3 separate regions of the Homo sapiens genome follow, and all the other regions are linked to region 2. The links come from fine-mapping of genetic effects on gene expression. A gene starts in region 2. Each other region holds a variant in brackets. All regions are shown on one strand. Distances are from middle to middle.

Region 1 (8,178 bases), 55 kb after region 2:
GTGGAGTGCAATGGCGTGATCTTGGCTCACTGCAACCTCTGCCTCCCGGGTTCAAGCGATTCTCCTGCCTCAGCCTCTCAAGTAGCTGGGATTACAGGCACCCACCACCACACCCAGCTAATTTTTATATTTTCAGTAGAGACAGGGTTTCACCATGTTGGCCAAGCTGGTCTCGAGCTCCTGACCTCAGGTGATCCACCCTCTTCAGCCTCCCAAAGTGCTGGGATTACAGGCGTGAGCCACCGTGCCCGGCCCTATAGCTCAATTTTTTTAAGTTTTGAAAAACATTCAGAACCCCCCGCCAACTCCTACCCTAAGCACAAAGTCTTGCTAAGAGGTCTTTAATCCCTACCTCAAAGACCAGATACGTGAGGCACAGAGAAAAGCCTCAATGTGGCAAGAGCAGAGAGGGTGACTGGGCAGGGTCCAGGGACAGGTCAGATACACGGCACTGGACCCATTCGGCCAACTAAACCCTCCCGGATCCACCCTCTTTCAGCTCCACTAGGAAAACAGCTGGCCTCAGCCCTGCCAGAGACTCAATGCCACAGGGCCAGGGAAACTGGGTCTACAAGCAGCGAAGACCCCCACAGTGGGTGTGGCATGAAAGGAACAGGATTCAAGCAGGGAGGAGGAAGTGCTCCTGCCTGAGGGTGAAGTGAGAGCTGGGAGCAGCTTTGGGCATGGCCCACACCCTCCTGCCTGTACACGTCCACCTCCCCCAGCCCAGGAGCTACACGCCCACTCCCGTCGGCACCACTGGGGACTGGAGCCCCCCGCCGCCAGGGCCCAACATCAGGAATTGTCTATGGACTTGAACCAGAGGCAATGGACTTCTGTTTGTGGCCAGCCCTGTCCTGAAGGCAAAGGGCCAGGCCAAGGGCGTCATATTTGTCCCTGGCATTCCCTCCGGCTCCCCTCCCTTCTACACTGTCATCTGTCACATCAGTAAACACCTTGGCAATGCGGTGGCAGGTGGGGGCTGTGGTCTCTGCGGCCACAGGCCTCACACTTGGAGCCCTCGAACCGGGAGGAACTGGGGGTAGGTCCCAGGACTGTCCTAGCCTAAGCCTTTAGCCCTCACTCCCTGCACCTCACCCTCCTTATTGCTTGGCTTCAAAGGGGACACACCTCCTCCCAAACAGGGCACTTCCAACTTTACTCTCACCTGGAGTTCCACAACCCCAGGAAGGCCTCAGGGCCAAGTCAGTGCTTGGGGCGCCATGCACCCAGCCTGTGTCAGTCAAGTGAGGAAAGCTTCAGGCCCTGAATCTAGGAGGATTCTTAGATCGCTGGACCCAAATGTCCCTGGTTAAAGATCCCACTGCTGGAATCCCCTCGACACCCACTCCAGAGATTCTGATTCAGTACAACCAGGTGAGGCCCTGTAATCTGTATTTTAACCTCTTCCCAAGGGGCCATGAACTGCTAGGCCAGCTGAGGGAAGGCCTGCCCCAGGCACCAGCCCCTGAGAGGGAAGCCCTGGGGGCCCTAGTACACCTCTCCCACCCACCAGGGTTGGGGTGGTGCTGTGGCCAGGTCAGACGACTAACTCTGGGGCAGGGAGCTGGGGACTGCCTGTGCACCTCTTCCAGACCTCCAAGCTCTGGACGGGCCAGGAAGGCAGGATGGGGCGAGCCTCAGTGTTCTTCCCTCCTGCCCTTGGCAATGCAAAGAAGCTCAGGGCCTGTGATTCACAGCACTTTCCCCTTAACACACCCACACCCATTTTTTTCAAGACCTCACCCAGCACAAACCAGGACAAGAAGGAACAGATTTAAACTTTCATGGAACTTCCTGCTCCCTGTGGCCTGGGAGATTGTTCCACTAACTCCTCTCTGGGTCTCTGGTCTCTGCCAGGGCAAGTCCAAGGGGTTTCCATTAGATGGACAACTCAGGCTGGGGCTTGTGACTGCTCTGCTGGATGCAAAACATCCAAAATGCCATCAAGTAACAACGATGACACCAAAAGGCAGGGAAGGGATCCAGAAGAGAGAGAAGAAACTGCTGTCCTCCCTAAGCCTTGGAAATCCCTGGGCTGTCACACCTGATGGGAGACATAAGGCCTCCTGGTCCAACAGCACGGGCAGCAGCACATGGAGTGGCCAGACACCCACATAAGGCTCACAGCCCTCCCAAGCAGGAGGCTCCTGTTCCTGCTGGGACCCACGAAACAACCTGCAAGGACCAGGCCCAACACATCTGCCTACTCAAATGGCCTCTGGGAGCATTCTCCGGCTCCATTCCCACAAACACATTCCCCTACAACCACCAGTTTACTGCAGGCAGGCTCCTCCTCCCAAAACAGCAGAGCACTTTTCTCCCTGACTCCTAAACACGGTGCCACACATGGCCTTGCAGAGTGGCCTGATGGCATGGGTGGGGACACGGTGCCAGCTGTGAGTTCAAGCCCCGGCTCTGACACCCATCCCTGATACACCATCCTGGGCAAGACTCCAACCTCCCTGGGCCATCACCCCTCCTCTACGAGATGAAGGTTACAGCACCCGTCCTCTGGTACTACTGCAAGGACTGCTGGGGACACGTTTATTATAAACTGTCTGCACAGAGTTGGCACCCAATAAATGAATTCCTTCCCTTCCTTCCTACTCTGTGATTTAGTTTCCCTGTCTCAGCTCCAAATTTAAAGAGATCTCAAGCTCTCCTCAGAAATGCCAAAGTGGCCCAGGCACCAAAGACAGAGAATAAATACTTTCAACAAACTCTCAATGTTGAAGTCATCAGCTCCAACTGGGAATCCACTCTGGTCGCTGGCTGACTCCATCCCCTGAATCCTAGATTTTCTCAGTGTGGGAGAAAGAGTGGACAAGTAAGTTCGCCACCATTTTCTGCACTTCTCAGCCCGCTCCCAACAGGGCAGCAGGAGATAAATAGTTACACAAGGGCAGTGAGGCTGTAAGGCCGTTTGCCAGACACGAGGAAGCATTGTAACTCCTTTTAAAAGTATATAATCTGAGTCCGTAGCGTTCCCCAAAGTTAACGGACACCTTCCCCTGGGATGGGCCGGGCCGCCTCTCCGCAGCAGACACGTTCTGAAGCTGGCTCATGCGTGTCCATTCTGACGGTGCGAATGCCCAGCGTCCAAAGTTGCCTTGCCCTTAGTGGGAACCTCCCGGGCCTCCGGGAGCCGCAGCACTCACGGGACTGCCGCTGCACCGCCGCTGCGGGCGAGTGTTAGGAACGGCCTTCGTGGCAGGAGTGGAGATGTGATCACCAAAACTCCCGCGCCCCGGGCTCCACCCGCCCACGGGGGTGACGCTTTCCCCGGGGGTGACGCTTTCCCCGGGGTTTCCACGGCGCCTCCCCGGGCGCCGGGGACCGCACTCCCCGGACCCCCTAGAGCTGTCCCTACGCAGATCTCCTTAGAGCGACGCGCATCTGGGATGTCTTGGGTGCCCGGGCGCACTGGTCTAGCGTTGCGGGGTGGCCAGGCTGGGAACCAGCCCTCCAAGCGCCCCGCGCGCCCCCAGCCTGGCCCGTCTGGGGCCCCCGAGGGAGGAACCCCGGCCTGGAGAAGACGACCCATTTCGGAGCTCCGACGGGGCCCCGAGTTCGGGCGACGCCGAGCGCCTCACCTGAGCGGGACACAGATGGCCAGGTATCTGTCGACTGCCACGGCCAGAAGGCTGAAGATGGAGCTCTGCGTGAGCACCAGCACGAAGCAGGCGAGGAAGAGGCAGCCGTAGAAGTCAGTGCAGAAGCCCAGGCTGATGGTGATGGCAAAGGGGATGGCGAAGAGCCCCACGGCCACGTCGGCCGCAGCCAGGGACACCAGGAAGTAGTTGGTGGGCGTCTGCAGAGTGTTCGCCGTGCCCACCGCGGCGCACACCAGCACGTTGCCCGCCACCGAAAGCGCGGCGATGACCAGCTCCAGCGCCACGTACAGCGCGTCCTGTGTCTCCAGCAGCATGGCCGGGCCAGCTGGGCCCCGGGCGCCCCCTACCGAAGGCGCGCCGGGCGAGGGGCAGCCGCGTGAGACCCGCCGGGCATGGCCATAGCGCCCGGACCGCGCCTCCGCCTGCCGCTTCTGAGCCTCGGGGCTGGGGCGCTGGTGGCCGGGACCCACGGGTCGGGGCCCCCCGCGGCCAAGAGGCGGCACCCATTGGCCCGCGCGCCCGCCCGTCTCGGGCTGGGCGGAGCACCACCCACTCGCCCGAGCCCAAAGTTCGCGCCCGCGCGGGGCCCCTCCGGTCCAGGCGCCGTGCCGCGTCTTGGTGGCGGCGGATAACTAACAAATTGCCCCAACTTCCCGTCACGCTCGAGCTCGGAGGCTGTGTCCCAGTGCTCGCACTGCCTTCCAGTCCGGGCGACTCCTGGGATGGGGCCGGGCTCTGCCCGGGGCGCCAGCAGGTCCCAGGAGCCGCCGCGAGAGGACCCCCCAGGGCCGCGCAACCCCGGGCGGGGCGAGCTCACTCCAGGCTAACCCTGCGCACCCCGGGCAGGCCGACTGGATGGGGGGCTGCCGGGCAGGCAGGGAGCCGAGGCCGCAGTCCCCGCTCGTGCAGCAGTCTCGGGCAGCGCAGCACCACCGGAGCTGTCTCCAGGCTGCGGGGCCGGACTGCAAGGAGCCCTCGGGGGCTGCAGCCCCCTCCGGCCGCCTCCCAG[C/A]GAGGCTCAGCGCTGTTCTCCACCCTCGCCCGCGCCACTGCCCCTACGGCCCCGCTCTGCCTTCTACCTTAAGACAAGCTCGTGGCCGTCCCATCCTCGTCCACCGCCCGAAAATACCAGTGTTCCCCGGGCCCTCTTTTTTCTTTCCTTCACACTCACCCTGGATCGGCACAGGCTCCCGAGGCCTCCCACGTGGCCCTCACACCCTTAACTCCCAAATCTCTTGCTTCAGCCCTAACAGCCTCCTGAGGGCCAGATCCTAACACCCCACTGCCGACTCTCGCCAGGAGAGAGACTGGTGCCCCCAAATCCAACAAGACCAAAACCAAGCTCATCTCTAATTCTCCCCAAACCTGTGCTGCCGCCTTTTCCTGGGACCCTGTTCGTTATTGACCTGGCAACCCTCACCCACCCTAGGAAGTTTGCTGACACCCTGAGCCTTCGCCTTTCTCCACGTCCCAATGATCAGCAGTGCTGCTGGTTCTGCTTCCAGAGACTTGCTTCCTTTTACCCCCAAAGTCCTGCCCCGAGTCCCTCCTCACCACCTGCTTCTACCATCCCTCCCTCTCTGCCTGTGGGTCCTCAGCTTCTGCAGCCCTCACCAACACCATTGTTCTAGAGCACTCCTGGCCACGCTATTTCACCACCCGAAAGCCTTTGCTGACAGTCACCAAAGAGGATGGGTAAGGAGATTTTCCAGCAACAGGAAAAGATGCTTGTAAAATCATGTAAAGCAAAAATCAAAACATGGGGTGACTGCTAAAGGGTAAAGGATTTTGTAAAGGATTTTTTAGGGTGATAAAAATTTTCTCAATGTGGTGATGGTTGTACGGTTCTGTGGATATACCTCAATGCCACTGAACTGTACACTTGAAAGGCATGCATTGTGTGGCACATAAATTATATCTCAATGTAGCTGTAATGACGACAACATGGCTCACGCCTATAATCCCAAAACTTTGGGAGGCCAAGACAGGAGGAACATTTGAGGCCAGGAGTTCAAGACCAGCCTGGCCAATGTAGGGAGACCCCATCTCTAAACAAACAAATAAAAAATAAATCAGCCAGGCACGGTGGCAGGTGCCTGTAGTCCCAGCTACTTGGGAGGCTGAGGCAGGAGGATCCTTTGAGGCCAGGGGTTCGAGGCTGCAGTGAGCTGGGATCATGCCACTGCATTCCATCCAGGCTGGGCAAAAGAGGGAGACCCTGTCTCTAAAAAAAGACAAGAAGAAGAAAAACCCCTCTGCCCTCCACAGGCATAAACAGTCACATCTGCCCTTGCACCAACGAGGACAGCAAAATGTCAAAAACACACACAGTAGACCTCCTAGCTGGGTGGGATGATTACAGGGAATTTTTTTTTCTATTTCCCTTGAGGTTTTGTTACTTCCATAATGAAAACAGTTGATTTATATATCAAAATATTGGCAAGCCCACACATTCCGTGTCCTGGTCACGTGAGTTCTGGAATCACCTGCTCCACCAATCACGTTCCCACAGCAGTTGACACAAACTTCTGCTGCCACACAGAAGGCCAGAGAGATCAGGCAGCTCCTCCAATAGCACTTCCTTGGAGTGGCAGAGGGCAAAGGGTTAGAGGAGGCTTCCTGGGGTACTGGCTTTTACAGAGTGAGGGAGGCTTCACAGTGGGGTGGTTCCAGCTATACCAGGCAGAGGTGGTAGTTAGGAGTTTGCCCAGGGGTGCCATGCCCAGGAGAGTGAAGAGAAAAAGGCCTAGTGGAGAAGGCTCTGGCTGCCAGGCTGGAGAGCTGGGCCATCCTGCTGGGATGCCAGTCCGCAGAGGTCACAGGACGGGGCGGGGATGGTCAGAGCAATATCCAAAGGAGTGAGTGGAGATTTTGCAGAGGGAGAGGAGGCGAACGGTGTCTGGCTGGTTGCTATGAGTGGTTCCTGCACGCCCTGCAGCTGCTGGGCCTGGGCTCTGCTCTAGCATTTCCTGTGCCCAGAATCACCATTTCCCCTTTTCAGAGCCCAACCTCCATCAGGAAACCTTCCCTGAATCACCCAATGTATTAGGCCATTCTTACATTGCTATAGGGAAATATCTGAGACTGGGTAATTTACAAAGAAAAGAGGTTTATTTGGCTCACAGTTCTGCAGCCTGTAAACCATAGTGCCAGCATCTGCTTGGCTTCCAAGGGGCCTCAGGGAGCTTTACTAGTGGCAGAGGGTGAAGTGGGAGCAGGCATGTCACATGGGGAAAGCAGGAGCAAGAGGTGGGGGGAGGTGCCACACCTTTTTTAACAACCGGATCTAGTGAGAACTCACTCACTATCATGAGGACAGCACTAAAAAGGATGGCACTAAACCATTCATCAGAAACTGCTCCACTGCTTCCACTAGGCCCCACCTCCAACACTGGGGATTACATTTCAGCATGAGATTTGGGAGGACAGATTTCCAAACGATAGCACCCAAGTAGGAAGTCTCCAGCACAGGGCTGTGCCCTGTTCCCGTCTGTGTTGCAGTCCACTGAGTTTCAGGTCCCCGGTGTCCCTCACCAGCAAAGCTTTCCCTTCTCCGTCCTCTCCCCACCCCAGCCCCACCTGGTACCCTCTGACTCACACAACAACCCGCCCCTCTTCACAAAGTCTTTGTGAAATGAATCATACATTTTCCTGACTCCTTCAACCCCTGATCCACGCTAGGATTTGAGCTGGACTCACTGGGTCCATGGGGGTGCCAATTATTATTATTAAATATTATAATAATTATTATTAACAGGTTATTATTCAGGAAACACGAGGAGGAAGGGTGGAATCCGAAGAGAGTCATGGCATTTAGTCTTTTTTTTTTTTTTTTTTGAAACAAGAGTCTCACTCTGTCACTGAAGCTGTAGCACCATGGTGGGATCATAGCTTACTGCAGCCTCAACCTCCTGGGCTCAGGTGATCCTCCCACCCCAGCCTCCCAAGTGGCTAGGACTACAGGTGCACACCACCATGCCTGGTTAATTTGTAATGTTTTTGTAGAGACAGTGTCCCACTATGTTGCCCAGGCTGGTCTTGAACCCCTGGGCTCAAGCGATCCTCCCATCTCAGCCTCCCAAAGTGCCGGGATTACAAGTGTGAGCCACTACACCCAGCTGGTTTAGTCTTGAAAGCAATTGGTGTGCAGGGAGCAGAGCCCAGGTCTTAGCAACAGAGACTCCAGGTTTGATTCCCAGCTCTGCTGTTGATGTTGGACAAGTCAATTAATCTTTCTAAGCCCCTATTTCTTATGTATAAGATGGGATAACAATATCTACTTCACAGGGTCAGGCTAAAAAGGGGCAGGAGGAGCCATCTGCCATCTGACTACCTCTAGATCCTGACTCCTGGAAAACAACTGCAGTGATGAAAGCATCTGGTTAGGTTAGGACTAGAGCCCTAGAAACTCAAGTGGGACTTTCACTGGTGAAAGTGGAAGGGTATGCTTCCTGAACAAACTGACCCTCCGTGGACCTCTTCCAGACTGCTAGTACACATCGTCTCATCTCTCACCCCTCTCATCCTGCCTCAACTGCCAGAGCAGAATCCAGGTGACATACAG
Region 2 (8,161 bases):
GGGCAAACTGGAAAAAGACTGACAATTTCAAAGATGAGGGATGGAACACTTTGAGTGTGACACCCAATTTCTGGGAGACCCAGATGACCAGTAGACAATGAATATTATGTAACATCCCAGAGTCAAAGTTTCCTGCCCACAGTCCTACTCCCTGGCTGCTGTACTTACCTGTTCTGCGCAGCATAGATACTGGCCAGCTTTAGGGAAATTTCAATTATTGCATTGTCCTCCTGTGAGAGAAAGAGAATGAAGGGAACTCATAACAAGTAAATTTTTTCATGGCATATTTCAGATCAACTTCCAGACTGACGGTGGCCTCAAAGCCACAGTCTTTATTCTTTTAGAGTGATGAGCCAACTGTGAATTCCTTGGCAAGCATGCTGTTGCATTTAGTGAAAGAATGGCAATTTGTATAGAGATCTCAGAAGGGAAACTCCACCTTTCCTGACCAAAGCATGTGGTGGGGCTAGGAGGAGTTTTCAGGAGACAAGACTGTTTTGAAAACTGCTTCAGTGAGGGGCCAATACTAGGCAATGTCCTTACCTGCTTCATGCCCCCTCCAAGGAGGTAACTCATTGTTGCTTTAAAAAGTTGTTCAGCCTAAAAGCATAAGGAAAAGATTTTTCTTTTAATTGGGCCCCATTTTATATATATATATATGACCCTGGATTCTAAGTGCCAGTCTGATGCAACATTCCTTGTAAAACCCATATACCCACACACACGCACACTCACACACAGAAAAGTACCCTTTTGAAGCGAAAACAGATCAAAATATCAGGACCCTCAACATCCTCTGTGTACCTTAAACTACTCTCTGATGAGTAGAAAACAACCTCAGAGATTAAGTTCTTATCCAAACCCACTGTGGCAGAGACTACAAACTGTCTCCTAATAGTCATTCTCTTCTCCATCTTTTTGATTACAGAGTCCCCTCGATTTAGCCTGGGAAATATGGTGAAATCCCGTCTCTACAATAAATAAATAAATAAATAAATAAATAAATAAGAAAATTAGCCAAGTGTTGTGGCACACGCCTGGAATCCCAGCTACTCAGGAGGCTGAGGTGAGAGGATCAACTGAGCCTGGCAGGTCGAGGTTGCAGTCAGCCATGATTAAGCCACCGCACTCCAACCTGGGCAACAGAGCAAGACCTTATCTTAAAAAAAAAATTCAGTCAATTTTAGCAGATTGGACACCCTTAAGTTAGATATGGTCATATGATAAAATTTAGGCCAAGGGATGCAGGCAGAAAGAACGTGAACTTCTAATCATGTTTTATAAGGAAGCTGCTCACAGTCCATCTTCTCCCCCTTCCTGCAGACTGGAGGTGAGTCAGCTCACCTAGGCAGAGGAGGGCTTATCTTAGAAGAAACCTGGACTTCTGGATCAGAGAGCAAAGGTGCCTATGTCTGTCTGCCTTCAGTCTTTAGCCTATCTCTGGACTAACACAATAAAGAGAAATACACTTTTATCTTGTTTGAGTCACTATATTCTAGGGTCTCTTTGTTATAGCAGCTTAGCCTGTACTCTTACTATTACAGTTCCCTTGAAGCTACTCCTTCATAAATTCAAGATATTACAAAGCAATTTACTTACATTTTCAAGCTGACCCCGTATAAATGCTAAGTTGGCCATCTGAAAGCAAATTACAAATTGTTTTTCAGTTTAGAATACTGTGTTCCTACTTATTTCAAAACTTTAAAATTCCCTTTTGCTTTCACCCTCAAAATTTAAAAAATAGTTGAAAATGAAAAGCACATCACCAATTAATCTGCAAGAAGAAGCACAGGACAGCAATCATGTGAGAATTAAATACTTGCACATACTTTGTTGTTAACAAACCAAATCTAGGTCCACTCATCATTAAAAAAACATGCTAATGATACTGGTTTTTTTTGGTCTGGAATTGAGAGGTCTTATGTCACCCCAAGGGTAAAAAAACTGAAGCTGTGGCCGGGCGTGGTGGCTCATGCCTGAAATCTCAGCACTTTGGGAGGCCAAGGCAGGTGGATCACCTGAGATCAGGAGTTCGAGACCAGCCTGGCCAATATGGTGAAACCTCGTCTCTACTACAATACAAAATTTAGCCAGGCATAGTGATGCATGCCTGTAATCCAGCTACTCGGGAGGGTGAGGCAAAAGAATCGTCTGAACTCATGAGGCGGAGGCTGCAGTGAGCCAAGATTGTGCCACTGCACTGCAGCCTGGGCAACAGAGTGAGGCTCCATCTCAAAAAAACAAAACAAAACAAAAAATGAAACTGAAGCCAAAAGAAAACTCAGTAAAAAGAAAAGGAGTTTTAGAACATCGTGAAAGTCAGGAATATAAATCAGAAGAACTAACTACCCTTCCCTCCCATCCAACCTTCCTCATCAGTGGTTCAGACTGGTTATAAGAGTTACCAAATCATAAGTGTAAGTGATGGCCTTCTTGTTATCAGTCTGATAGGCGAGACGAAGAGCGTCATGCAAAATTAACTCAGCCTCTTCTGGCTCATCTTTCATAATGCTCAACTGAAAAGGGAAGACAAAATAATAGAAAATGAAACATATAGTAGATGCATATGCTAAGAGACAGAAGTGTATGCAACTGTACATCCCAACTGATAGAAGGAAGCTAACTCATTCATCAGACATTTACTGAATTCCTACTATGTACAAAGCATTGTCTACAGAGATGACAGGGAGGTCAGCCTCCCTTGCAGCTAGGTGTGGCCATCTGATGAAGTTTTGGCCAAGAGACACAGGCAGAAGGAATGTGATCTTACAACATATTTTATAAGGAAGCTGCTTGTCCTCCATCCTCTTTCTAATTTCTTGCAGGCTGGAGGTGACCATATAGGACAAGTAAGCTTAATTACAACTAATGATAAGAGCTATAAAGATGACAGAAAGGAATGATAAGGGGTCTCCTCTAAATAGGACTTAGGGAAGCCTTCCAAGGAAGTGACAGCTAAACTGAGGTAGTAAGGATGAGAATGAGTCAACCAAATAAGGACCTGGGGAGAACAATGACTCAAACAGAGGGTAGAGAATGAGTGAAGTCCCTACAAGCTGAAGAGAATGGTTTTGAGGAAGAAATGCAAAGAAATAGATGTGAAGGGAGGATGGTGAGCCAGAGGATTACTGCCAAATGGGTGGGCAAGGTATATGCTGGTTTAGATCATGTGGGGTGTTGCAAGCCAAGGCAAGGAGTTTGTATTTTATCATAAATGCAGTGGGTAGCCATTCAGAGCTTTCTGACAAGGAGATGACATAATCCAATTTACTCTTTTTTTTTTTGGTCGCTTTGGTTTCTGCATGGAGAATAGATTGCAAGAGGCCAGGAGGCCAGGAAAGACTACTGGAGCATAGTTGGTGGCAATGATGGTTTGCACTAGGGTGACAGCAAGGGAGATAGACAAAAGGGGAAAGATTTGAGAAATATTTTGCATTTGTTGGCAACAGGACTTGTTGCTGGACTGTAAGTGTATTGGAAGGCAATGGTAAGGTACCACAAGTTTTAAGAATGACTATGAGGTTTTTAGGCTGAAAAACTGATGGTAGTAAAGAGATGGCGAAAGCGTATGTTGAGGAGGCATTAAAGATCGTTTAGTTTTGGGCATGTTAAATCTGAGAGGTAGGTATGGTCCTAAAGTGCAAATGGCATGTCAGTAGCACACTACAGAATGGAAATACAAATTTGGACGTTGTTGGCATCGAGTAGGTATTTAGCTCAATGGAAGAGATGAGATAACTTGGGAAAAGAGGAGGAAAAAAAAATAGAAAAGGATGTGGAGAAAAGGAAGAATTCAGGAGGAGAACCGAACCGCATAACCAACACTAAGTTGCCATTTTCAGGCCGCTATATACGTGCGAAATTATGTCATTTCAGATAGGCTGGTTAATTGATAAAACCACTACAAAACGTTCCCGATATTTCGTTTGCATAAAGCGTGATGCCTAGGGCGCCATCTCCATTTGCACTTGACACTGCAGAGGTTTTACTGCAGGCCTTAGAGTCGGAAAAGCCTGGATGGATTCCAATCCCCTCTCGGATGACCCACCTCATTCTCGGCAATTTTACCCGCGGAGCCTCCATCCACTCTTCGGCGAGGCGGAGAGAGTAATGCGCAGCAACGCCAAGACCCCGCTCACAAAGGCTACCGCGCTCGGCCGGGCGCAGGGCCCGGAGCCGCCTCACCTTGGCTCGCTTCAGCAGCTGGATGATCTCTGCCTCGGCCTCGTCCGCCCCGTCCTCGGCAGCGGCCCCGTCGGCTCCCTGCTGCTCCTCCTCCTCTGCCGCAGCGGGCCTCGAGAACCAGGCGAGCGCTGCGGGAAGGGGCTCTGAGGTCATCGGGCCCGGCCCGCGCCCCTGTCCCCGCCCGGCCGGCCCCGCCCGGCCCGCGCCCCTCACCTGCCAGCAGCGGCAGCAGGCCTGGGCCCCGGCCGTGCGGCGCGACTCGGGATGGCGGCACCTGCACCTCGGGCCCCGGACCTCCTGCCAGCCCCGGGAGCAGGCGCGCGGAGCAGCCCCGGCACCGCCGCCCCGCGGCCCGCAGGAAGCCTCGGCCCAGGCTCCAGCTCAGGAGCCGGAACATGCTCCCGCCGCGTCCTCTGCGCACTGCAGGCCAGACGCGCTCCTGGCCCCCGACCACGCGCCGAGCGCCCTCCGGATTGGCCGGGCCCTGACGACTGAGCAGGACATCCCTGCGTCCGCACGCGCGATGACGCGCCCCGACGTCACTCCGTCTCGCCCTGCCCCGGCGGGGGGTCAGGATCCTCCACAGGTAGGCGCAGTCAGCTGGAGCGTCGCGGCGGTCCGCCGGTCGTGGAGGGCGTGTCCTGCGGCGCGATGGCCGTAGTGTTGCCGGCGGTTGTGGAGGAGCTCCTGAGCGAGATGGCGGCGGCGGTGCAGGAGAGCGCGCGAAGTACGGGACCGAGGTCGTGTGTGGCTGCGCCATGGGCGCGGGCGGGGCATCCGGGCACCGCCGGGCCGGGAGGCAGGAGGCGGGGTGTCCGGGCCTGGCCCTGCCTTTTTTCCATGTGGTTCTCTAAACCTCTTGTTCGTAAAAAGACAAAAAAACAAAACAACAAAAAAGCGAAATTGGAACAAGTAAAAGTCAAATCGATTCAGCAAATATTTACGGTACAGCGCAGTTGCAGGAGCCCCTCCGTCGGAGCGAGTAGGCCAGTGGGGACCGAAGTGCTGAGAGCTGGCCGGGTCGCTGGGAGGGGTCCCCGCCCGGGGGTGGAAGGGACGGGAGCCTACAGTGAGTGATAGAAACGTGGAGTTCTTGATTATTTTACACGAAATTTTGAATTATTAAACTTCTTTTTCTCAAATTCTGATGTTAACATTAAAGTTAATGCTTCCATACACTTTAAAAAGTAGGCCCAGCGCAGTGGCTCACTCCCGTAATCCCAGCACTTTGGGAGGCCGAGGCAGTTGGATTACCTAAGGTCAGGAGTTCGAGACCAGCCTGGCCAACATGGTGAAACTTCGTCTCTACTAAAAATACAAAAAATTAGCTGGGCGTGGTGGCGGGCGCCTGTAATTCCAGCTACTCAGGAGGCTGAGGCAGGAGAATCGCTTGAACCCGGGAGGCGGAGGTTGCCGTGAGCCGAGATCGCGCCATTGCACTCCAGCCTGGGCAACAAGAGCGAAATTCCATCTCAAAAAAAAAAAAAAAAGCATTTTAAGAGCCACAAAACCTAAATGCATATGCAATCGTTGGAGTAAATCTGGGTATTGTGAAAGCACCATTTTTTTTCTGACCAGCAGAGGGTACTCTTTGGCTATGCTCACCAAAATCACTTGAGAAGGGTTGATCTCAAGATGTGTTCAGAGTATGCTAGGATAAGATCAAATCAAATTTGATATACTCAAAATGCATTGACTAATGAACTACTCTTAGGATGTAAAAATGGCCACCTTATAAATAACAGCCATATCAGGCCCCCAAACTGCCATCGCTTATTCAACTTGGATGGCTTTTGTTTTAAAAGTACTGTACTGCATTTTGAAAGGGTTTATCTTGAGTTACTGTTTTTAAGGAACTGAGAAAAATAAGCCAACTTTGTTTCCTCATCTCAGTCAAAATTAAGGAGACTTAAGTATATGTGCTTGAAAGATTAGTGCAGCCAAGTATTCAAACATACTTGTTTCCAAAAAGGATGGGAAAAAAGCCAACTGATGTTAGCTTATACAATTGTTCTGGGCTCTCAGATTTGATGGCCTGAGGGTTTGGAATGCTGTCACTTTAAACAATAATCGCCAGAACTGTTCTGTGTCTGAATAGGTTAATCCATACACTGACAGTAGTTTGGGTTGGTTTGTTTTTTTTTTTTAGACAGAGTCTTGCTCTGTCTCCCAGGCTGGAGTGCAATGGGCGATCTCAGCTCAGTGCAACCTCCGCTTCCCAAGTTCAAGTGATTCTCCTGCCTCAGCCTCCCAAGTAGCTGTGACTACAGGCGCATGCCACCACACCCGGCTAATTTGTGTATTTTTAGAAGAGACGGGGTTTCACCATATTGGCCAGGCTGGTCTCAAACTCCTGACCTTGTGATACGGACACCTCAGCCTCCCAAAATGCTGGGATTACAGGCGTGAGCCACCGTGCCCAGCCAGTTTTGGGTTTTTTCCCTCCAACAAGAAGGTTCACAAGACACATTGACAGTCCTGAAGGGGGCATAATCATTGCCCCTGACACCCATGGTTCAGACACAGGAACCAATGCTGTTGATTCATGTTTATTTTCAGAAGCCCTGTTTTCTGTCTTTTTCAAAATCTTTTTTCTATTAATATATAGTTATGCACCCTTCCTAACCCCCATTCTTCAGTGGTAATTTTTTTAGATCAAGATTCCAAGTTTTATTTGTATGATGATATATAAACTAGTCACAGTGGAACCATGTAGGAAGCTATGATTACTTTTTGTTTTCTTTGTAACTTTTGGATTTCCCTGGAGTTACAACTATCTTGGTTTTGTTTATGTGCTTATTTAGTTTTTTACATATTTATTCCTACTTTAACCTCACATCCTTTACTAGTGTTCTCAATCTCCCCTCAAGATGTTCAGATGAACGAAGTATGTTATCAGTTTCACCTTCCTGAAGACATCTCTAGAGCCTTCGGACTTGCTTAATATGGACTGGCTGATCTCTCGGCTGTTTGCTGAGATCTCTCTTAACCATTATTATCTGGGAATTCTCTGTATCTTTGTTGGGTCCTATGTTTAGTATATCCTACAGTTTTCTTTTTCTCAGTTTACTACCTCTTTTTTTTTTTTTTGAGACAGTCTGTCACCCAGGCTGATGTGCAATAGCATGATCAAAGCTCACTGTAGCTTTGACCTCCTAGGCTCAGATGATCCTCCCACCTCAGCCTCCCAAGTGAGTATCTGGGACTGCAGGCACACAATACCACAGCTGGCTAGTTTTTTGTATTTTTTGTAGAGACAAGGTCTCACTATGTTGCCTAGGCTGGACTCGAAGTCTGGAGCTCAAGAGGTCCACCTGCCTTGGCTTCCCAAAGTGCCAGGATTACAGGCATGAGCCACCGCACCCGGCCCATGTAAAATTTTTTTTTTTTTTTTCGAGACAAGGTCTTGCTCTGTCACCCAGGCTGGAGTGCAGTGGCACAATCATAGGTCACTGCTCCCTCAACCTCCCAGGCTCAAGAGATCCTCTTGTCTCAGCCTCCTGAGTAACTGGTACCACAGGTGTGCACCACCATGCCCAGCTAGTTTTTGTATTGTTTGTAGAGACGGGGTTTCACTGTGTTGCCCAGGCTTACTACCTTATATTATGGCACACAGACTCTGCCAGCTTCCTGAAGAAGGGGGCATGAGATGTACCTTTTGAGGCTTTCTTTTCTATTTTTTGAGACCGGGTCTCACTCTGTTCCCCAGGCTAGAGTACAGTTGCGCAATCACACCTCATGCCCAGCTGATTATTTTATTTTCTGTAGAGACGGGTCTTCCTTTGTTGCCCAGGCTACTCTGGAACTCCTGGGCTCAGGCGATCCTTCTGCCTTGGCCTCCCAAAGTGCTGGGATTATAGTTGTGAGCCCCCACACCGGCCCCTGTTTGAGGCTTATGTCTGAAAAAGTTGTGGGGTTTTTTTGTTTTTTTGGGTTTTTTTTGAGACGGAGTTTCGCTCTTGTTGCCCAGGCTGGA
Region 3 (8,178 bases), 250 kb before region 2:
GGCTGGAGTGTGACGGCATGATCTTGGCTCACTGCAACTTGTTTCCTACCAGATTCAAGCGATTCTTGTGTCTCAGCCTCCCGAGTAGCTGGGACTACAGGCGTGCGCCACCATGCCCAGCTAATTTTTGTATTTTTAGTAGAGACAGGGTTTCACCATGTTGACCAGGCTGGTCTTGAACTCCTGACCTCAGGTGATCCACCTGCCTCGGCCTCCCAAATTGCTGGGATTACAGGCGTGAGTGCACTGTGCCCAGCCAGAATGGTGTACATTTTAAATGTATAAATTGTTTATTTCTGGAATTTCCATTTAATATTTTTAGACCACAGTTGACTGCAGGTAACCGAAACCACAGAAAGCAAAACTGTGGATAAGGGAGGACTACTGCAATTGAGGTTATATAAATCCATAAATGTGGGGCCCTAATCTGATAGAACTGGTGGTGCTATAAGAAAAGGAAGAGATCTGTCTCCCTCTGTCCCTCCACCACATGAGGCACAGTGAGAAGGCAGCCATGTGCAAGTCAGGCTGAGGACCCTTACCAGAAACCAACCCTGCCAGACCTTGATCTGGGACTTCTAGTCTGCAGGACTCTGAGAAAATAAATTTGTGTTGTTTAAGCCACCCAGTCTATGGTATTTTGTTTTGGCAGCCCAAGCTGACTAAGACAGATTTTAGTACTGTGAAGTAACAGATACATAAAAATGTGCAAGTGGCTTTGGAACTAGATAATGGGTAGAGGTTGGAGGAGTTTTGAGGTGAATGCTAGAAAAATCCTAGACTGCCAGGAAGGAATGGTTGGTAGAAATATGGACATTAAAGGTGATTCTGGTGAGGACTCAGGAAAGGAAAAGGAGACTGGAGAGAAAACCTCCATCTTCTCAGAGAATACATAAACAATCATGAACAGAATGTCAGTGGAAATATGGTCTTTAAGGCCATTCTGATGGGGTCTCAGAGAAAAATGAGATAAGACATTGGAAAATGGAGAAAAGGTGATCACTATTATAAAGAAGCAAAGAACCTGCCTGTATTGTGTTCTAGTGTTTTGTGGAAGATAGAACTTCTGAAGGATGAAATTAGATATTTAGCTGAGGCGAATTCTAAGTAAAATTTTGAAGGTGTGGCCTGGGTCCTCTTGACTGTTTATAGTAAAATGTAAGAGTTGAGAGATAAAGAAGAAATTGCTACGTTTAAAAGGAACCAGAACGTAAAGGTTTTGGAAAATTTTCAGCCTGTCCATATTGTAAAAAAATGAGAAAGCTTGAGGCTGGGCGCAGTGGCTCAAGCCTGTAATCCCAGCACTTTGGGAGGCCAAGGCTGGTGGATCACGAGGTCAGGAGTTCAGGACCAGCCTGACCAACATGCTGAAACCCCGTCTCTACTAAAAACACAAAAATTAGCCAGGTGTGGTGGTGCGCGCCTGTAATCCCGGCTACTTGGGAGGCTGAGGCAGGAGAATCGCTTGAACCCAGGAGGCAGAGGTTGCAGTGAGCTGAGATCGTGCCACTGTACTCCAGCCTGGGCGACAGAGTGAGACTCCATCTCCAAAAGAAAAAAAAAAGAGAGAAAGCTTGTTCTGAAGAGAGCACTCTGGTGTGACTGAACAACCATTTGATGAGGTGATTAGCATGGGTGTGAACCACACATGTAATCAACCACCTCAATAACAGCCAGGAGAAAGAAAAAATCGGGTGGGACGAAAGAAGCCTGCTGGACTTAAGAGTCTACAGGACCAGACAACAGAGCTATCTGGCTGCAAACATGCGTCGTCCTTCAAGAAAAGGGAAGAATGACCTCAAAAGTTATCCAGAGATCAGAAGGACTACCATTCCCACCACAGGCTCCAGAGGGCTTGGAGGGCCGAATATCCGCCCAAAGAGGATTGTTCTCAAGCCTCAAGATCTAATGGAGTTTACCTTCCTAGGTTTTGGCCTTGCCTGGGGCCTGTCACCCATTTCTCCCTTTTGGAATGAAAATATCTATCCTATGCCTCTCCATTCCTTATATTTTGTAAATATATAACTTGTCTGTTTTCACAGGTTCACAGCTGGTGAGGCTATTTAGATGAGACTTTGGACTTTCGAGTTAATGCTGGAATGAGTTAAGACTTTGGAGGCTGTTAGGATGGGATGAATGTATTTTGCATGAAATAAGGACATGAATGTGGGAGTCTGGGATGGAATACTATGAACTGAATAGTGTCCTCAACAAATTCATGTGCTGAAGCCCTAACCACTAATTGTAACTATTTTGAGATAGGGTTTTAGGAGGTAACTAAGATCACATGAGGTCATACGAGTGGGGCTTTAATCCAATAAAACTTGTAGCCTTTTAAGAAGAGGGAGGGAAGAAGGAGAGAGTGAGAGAATCTCTTTCCAGCATGTGAGAACATAGCGAGAAGGTCATCTGCAAGCCAGGAAGAGAGTCCTCATAAGAAAGTGACCCTGCAAGACCTTGATCTGGGCCGGGCGCGGTGGCTCACGCCTGTAATCCCAGCACTTTGGGAGGCCGAGGCGGGTGGATCATGAGGTCAGGAGATCGAGACCATCCTGGCTAACAAGGTGAAACCCCGTCTCTACTAAAAAAATACAAAAAAAATTAGCCGGGCGCGGTGGCGGGCGCCTGTAGTCCCAGCTACTCGGGAGGCTGAGGCAGGAGAATGGCGTGAACCCGGGAAGCAGAGCTTGCAGTGAGCCGAGATTGCGCCACTGCAGTCCGCAGTCCGGCCTGGGCGACAGAGCGAGACTCCGTCTCAAAAAAAAAAAAAAAAAAAAAAAAGACCTTGATCTGGACTTCTAGCCTGCAGAAATGTGGGAAAATAAATTTCTATTGTTTAAGCCACACTGTCTACGGTATTTTGTTAAGGGAGCCCAAGCAGACTAAGATGCATTTTTCTTGAATCTTCAAACTGGCTTCTTTAAGTATTTACTTTTTTTTTTTGAGACGGAGTCTCACTCTGTTGCCAGGCTAGAGTGCAGTGGTGCAATCTCGGCTCAGTGCAACCTCCGCTTCCCGGGTTCAAGCGATTCTCCTGCGTCAGCCTCCCAAGTAGCTGGGACTACAGGTGTGCACCACCATGCCCAGCTAATTTTTGTATTTTTAGTAGAGACGGGGTTTCACCGTGTTGGCCAGGATGGTCTCGATCTCTTGACCTCGTGATCCACCTGCCTCCCAAAGTGCTGGGATTACAGGTGTGAGCCACCGCACCCGGCCTGAAGTACTTACTTTTAATAGGCTTACTATCCCTCTACTATAGCATTTCACGAGTAGGGGAGTGATGCTGAAGCTACATGGTCTTCATGTGATATATAAAAAATATAGGTGCCATGACCGGGCGCAGTGGCTCACGCCTGTAATCCCAGCACTTTGGGAGGCCGAGGCGGGTGGATCACAAGGTCAGTAGATCAAGACCATCCTGGCTAACATGGTGAAACCCCGTCTCTACTAAAAACACAAAAATAAAAATAGCTGGTCAAGGTGGCGGGTGCCTGTAGTCCCAGCTACTTGGGAGGCTGAGGTGGGAGAATGGTGTGAACCCAGGAGGCAGAGCTTGAAGCGAGCTGAGATTGTGCCACTGCACTCCAGCCTGGGTGACAGAGGGAGACTCCGAGACTCCGTCTCAAAAAAAAA[T/A]ATATATATATATATGTGTGTGTGTGTATATATATATATATGTGTGTGTGTATGTATATATATATGTGTGTGTATATATATGTGTGTGTGTATATATATATGTGTGTATATATATATAGGCCAGGCATAGTGGCTCACACCTGTAATCTCAGCATTTTGGAGGGCTGAGGCGGGCAGATCATGAGGTCAAGAGATCGAGACCATCCTGCCCAACATGGTGAAACCCCGTCTCTACTAAAAATACAAAAAATTAGCCACTGCACTCCAGCCTGGCGATAGAGCAAGACTCCGTCTCAAATATATATATATATATATACTCCCTGGCTTACAATCTGGCTACGTCCCAATAAACCCATCCTAAACTGAAAATATCATAAGTAAAAAACACACTCTAGGCCGGGTGTAGTGGCTCATGCTTGTAATCCCAGCACTTTGGAAGGCCGAGGCAGGTGGATCATCTGAGTTCAGGACTTCAAGACCAGCCTGGCCAACACGGCAAAATCCCGTCTCTACTAAAAATACAAAAATTTAGCTGGGCATAGTGGCAGGCGCCTGTAATCCCAGCTTCTTGAGAGGCCGAGGCGGGTGGATCACGAGGTCAAGAGATTGAGACCATCCTGGCCAATGTGGTGAAACCTCGTCTCTACTAAAAATACAAAAATTAGCTGGGCGTGGTGGTGGGCACCTGTAATCCTAGCTTCCTGGGAGGCTGAGGCAGGAAAATTGCTTGAATCCAGGAGGTGGAGGTTGCAGTGAGCCGAGATTGCACCATTACACTCCAGCCTGGGCAACAAGAGCGAAACTCCGTCTCAAAAAAACAAGAACAACAAAAAACACACTCTAGTCTGGGTGTGATGGCTCACACCTGTAATCCCAGCACTTTGGAAGGCTGAGGTGGGTGGGTTGCTTGAGCTCAGGAGCTCAAAACCAGCCTATGCAACGTGGCAAAACCCTGTCTCTAAAATAATTACCAAAAAAATTAGCTAGATGTGGTGACGTGTGCCTGTAGTCCCAGCTACTCGGGAGACTGAGGCAGGAGGGTCACTTGAGCCCGGGAGGTGGAGGCTGCAGTAAGCCATGATCCTGCCACTGCACTCTAACCTGGGTGACAGAGTGAGACCCTGTCTCAAAAGCAAAAAACAAAAACCAAAAACTCCCCGCTTTATACCTTCAACTTAGGAGGTGTTTATCCAAATGTAACCCCATCCCAAGTTGAGGAGTGTACTGAATGCACATTGCTTTCTATCAGAGTAAAGATCTTAATAACCAAGATCTCCAAAACAGATTTGTCCCCGAAAACATTTGCATTACTGGGCCAAAGCAGACACTGCACAGGCAGGACATTGTGCAAATGGAGTGCCTGAGAAAAAACACGATTACTAATATTGAAATTGCCTTTGCAAAATTATGACTGAGACAGTGAAAGAGATCTAACTTAACTGACTCCATCTTGCTTCTAACCTCCAAGCTGTCCTTGTTCATTCCTGGGCATAGGATGAACTAACTTTGGGAGAAACTTAATTTATAGATCATAGTTTAAACAAAGACGGTAACAGCCCTTTCCCAAAGCAGACCTCCTTGCCTGGGGACTAGATTGCCTTTGTAGGACTAACGAGTTAGGCCCAAGATTATAAATTATGGTTTAGGAGTCATGCAGCTGGAGGACACAAGATTCTAACCCTCCCTAAACTGCTAAGATCAGTGCTTGAGATATTTTGCAGACCCTGCACTTGATGGATCACCCAGATCAATAAACTGGCTCATCTGATCTTGTAGTCCCCCACCCAGGAACTGACTCAGCCCAAGAAGAGACCTTCGACTCCCCATGATTTCGTCTCTGACCAATCAGCTCACTGGCTTCGCCCCACCCACCACATTATGCTTAAAAACTCTGCTGCCTGAATGCTCAGGGAGACAGATTTGAGTAACAGTAAAACTCTGGTCTCCCGCAGCTCTGCGTGAATTACTCTTTCACCATTGCAGCTCTCCATCTGGATAAATTGGCTCTGTCTAGGCAGTGGGCAAGGTGAACCCCTTGGGCGGTTACAATATTAATGTGAAAAAACAAATCACAACACTCACAGAGTAAGAGGGTGGGATATCATCTTTGAAAACAAAGGAACCCATAACTCCTTTCACAAATTAACTCAAAACCATGTATCTTTCGAGGTTTACGGAGGAAGAAATTTAGGAACAGAATTCAGTAACTTGCCTAGGTTACGCAATTAAAAACTTTAAACTTGGGTTTCAGTCTGGGCAGTCTGGCTCTATAAATCCACTGGTATAAACAGAAGAAATTCTCCCGTGGTGACCCCAGTAGTTTACCATGAAGCAAGTAAGATCAAGAATAAATCTAAACTTTTTCCTTCATCTCTTTGTAGCATACTGAAATGAATGGGATCCCCACCCCAAATCAAATACAGTGAACATCAATTCCCACCAATGCCTAATATTATAAAGAATAATCAGCAGGCCAGAAACGGTGGCTCACGCCTGTAATCCCAACACTTTGGGAGTTCGAGGCAGGTGGATCCCCTGAGGTCAGCAGTTCGAGACCAGCCTGGCCAACATGGTGAAACCCTATCTCTACTAAAAATATAAAAATTAGCTGGGTGGGTGGCACACGCCTGTGATCCTAGCTACTTGGGAGGCTGAGGCAGGAGAATTGCTTGAACCCGAGAGGTGGAGGTTGCTGTGAGCCAAGATTGCACCACTGCATTCCAGCCTGGGTAACAGAGCAAGACTCCGTCTCATAAACAAACAAACAAACACACACCAGTAACAACACAGTTAATGGTTAAACACTGGATATGTTGTCAATCAAATCATAAATACGGATAAAGTTGCCTGCTTTCCCTTTTTTGTTTAACATAGATTAAGGAAATCCACTCAAAGAAATAAGAAATGGATCAGGGCTGAGCGCAGTGGCTCATGCCTGTAATCCCAGCACTTTGGGAAGTGGACCATTTGTGGTCAGGAGTTCAAGACCAGCCTGACCAACATGGTGAAACCCCATCTTTACTAAAAAAACAAAAAATTAGCCGGGTATGGTGGTGTATGCCTGTAATCTCAGCTACTCAGGAGGCTGAGACAGAAGAATCACTTGAACCCAGGAGGCAGAGATTGTGTTACAAGCGAGACTCTGTCTCAAAAAAAAAAAAAAAAAAAAAAAAAAAGGAATCAGAAATAAGAGGCATATGTTGAAAACATGAAAGATTGTATTAGCATTATTTGCAGATGATTTACCTACAAAACTTTAGGGAATCAAGTTAAAACTGGTAGGCTTTTTACAGAAGTTTCAAAGTGATGAATATAAAATAAATACATTAAAAAATCAATAAAGCTACATACTAGCAGTAAATTCTTAACCAAAAAATCTTTTTCACAGCAATAATAATAAAAAAGAATCAAAATAACTTTAACAAGAATTGTTTAGTACCTAGATGAAGAAAACTATAAAAAGTTCTATATAGACTGGGAATGGTGGCTCATGCTGTAATATCAGCACTTTGGGAAGCTGAGGCAGATCACTTGAGCCCAAGGGTTGGAGACCAGCCTGGGTGACATGGCAAGACTCTGGATCTAAAATAATTTTTAAAATTAGCTGGGCATGGTGGTGCACACCTGTAGTCCTAGCTACTTAGGAGGCTGAGGTGGGAAGATTGCTTGAGCCCAGAAGTTAGAGTTTGCAGTGAGACAGGATCATGTCATTGCACTTTAGCCTGATGGCAGAGACCTTGTCTCCAAAAACAAACAAAAAAAAACCCCAAAGAAAAAGTCCTATACTCTGACCCAGTAATTCAATATCTAGAAATTCATTTATGGAAAGAGTCAGAACTTCAAAGAGATTTGCTAAAAAAATTGTAAGTGCTTAAATATTAGAAAGATTTAAATATTCAATAGTAGGAGAATGTTAAATGTTATGGTACATCTTCACGATTAAATCTTTACAATCATTAAAGACTTTTAATGATTATTTAATGACATAGAAAAATGCTAAAAATACTCTCTAGTAAAAAAAGCAGGGTACCAAATTTCTTATACCATTTGATGCTAATTTTGTTTAATACTGAGCAGATAATTCTCATTTTCCTTATAATTTTCTCAAGTATTCCCACCTTACATCTCAATGCTTCCAATTCTCCTCATTATAGTTTGTGGTTTTATTTTCCTCTAACTGATCCCCAGTTCTTATCACTCCAGTTAATCCATGGGCAATTTCATTCACCCCAAAGATTTTCTTTTTTTTTTTTAAGACAGAGTTTCACTCTTGTTGCCCATTCTGGAGTGCAGTGGTGTGATCTCGGCTCACTGCACCGTCCTCCTCCCAGGTTCAAGTGATTCTCCTGCCTCAGCCTCCATGCACCACCACACACGGCTAATTTTGTATTTTTAGTAGAGATGGGGTTTCTCCACGTTGGTCAGGCTGGTCTCAAACTCCTGACCTCAGGTGATCCGCCCACCTCAGCCTCCCAAAGTGCTGGAATTACAGGCCTGAGCCACTGCACCCAGCCCACCCCAAAGACTTTCATCCTCCCATATGCT

What was found. PIP is the estimated chance that this variant, and not a neighbour inherited with it, causes the effect.
Region 1: its variant is fine-mapped to the expression of TTC19 in whole blood (INTERVAL, PIP above 0.99).
Region 3: its variant is fine-mapped to the expression of TTC19 in whole blood (INTERVAL, PIP above 0.99).

What each region holds. Positions count from the first base shown.
Region 1 is chr17:15,941,002-15,949,179 of GRCh38, reverse strand. It overlaps ADORA2B (adenosine A2b receptor), which reads right to left and starts at 4,050. Exons shown (of 2, transcript NM_000676.4): 1 at 3,597-4,050. The coding sequence starts at 3,931. RefSeq lists an enhancer at 3,233-4,047 and a silencer at 3,875-4,494. The variant C/A (reference allele first, on the strand shown) is at 4,627.
Region 2 is chr17:15,996,270-16,004,430 of GRCh38, reverse strand. TTC19 (tetratricopeptide repeat domain 19) reads right to left here and starts at 4,607. Exons shown (of 10, transcript NM_017775.4): 1 at 4,399-4,607; 2 at 4,186-4,313; 3 at 2,406-2,516; 4 at 1,600-1,638; 5 at 544-600; 6 at 169-230. The coding sequence starts at 4,582. ZSWIM7 (zinc finger SWIM-type containing 7) reads left to right here and starts at 4,727. Exons shown (of 5, transcript NM_001042697.2): 1 at 4,727-4,912. The coding sequence starts at 4,837. RefSeq lists silencers at 4,254-4,643, 4,994-5,153 and an enhancer at 4,764-4,853.
Region 3 is chr17:16,241,276-16,249,453 of GRCh38, reverse strand. All of the region lies in intron 2 of PIGL (phosphatidylinositol glycan anchor biosynthesis class L), which reads right to left. Among named protein-coding and RNA genes, the nearest start is that of PIGL, 28 kb to the right of the region's middle. The variant T/A (reference allele first, on the strand shown) is at 3,634.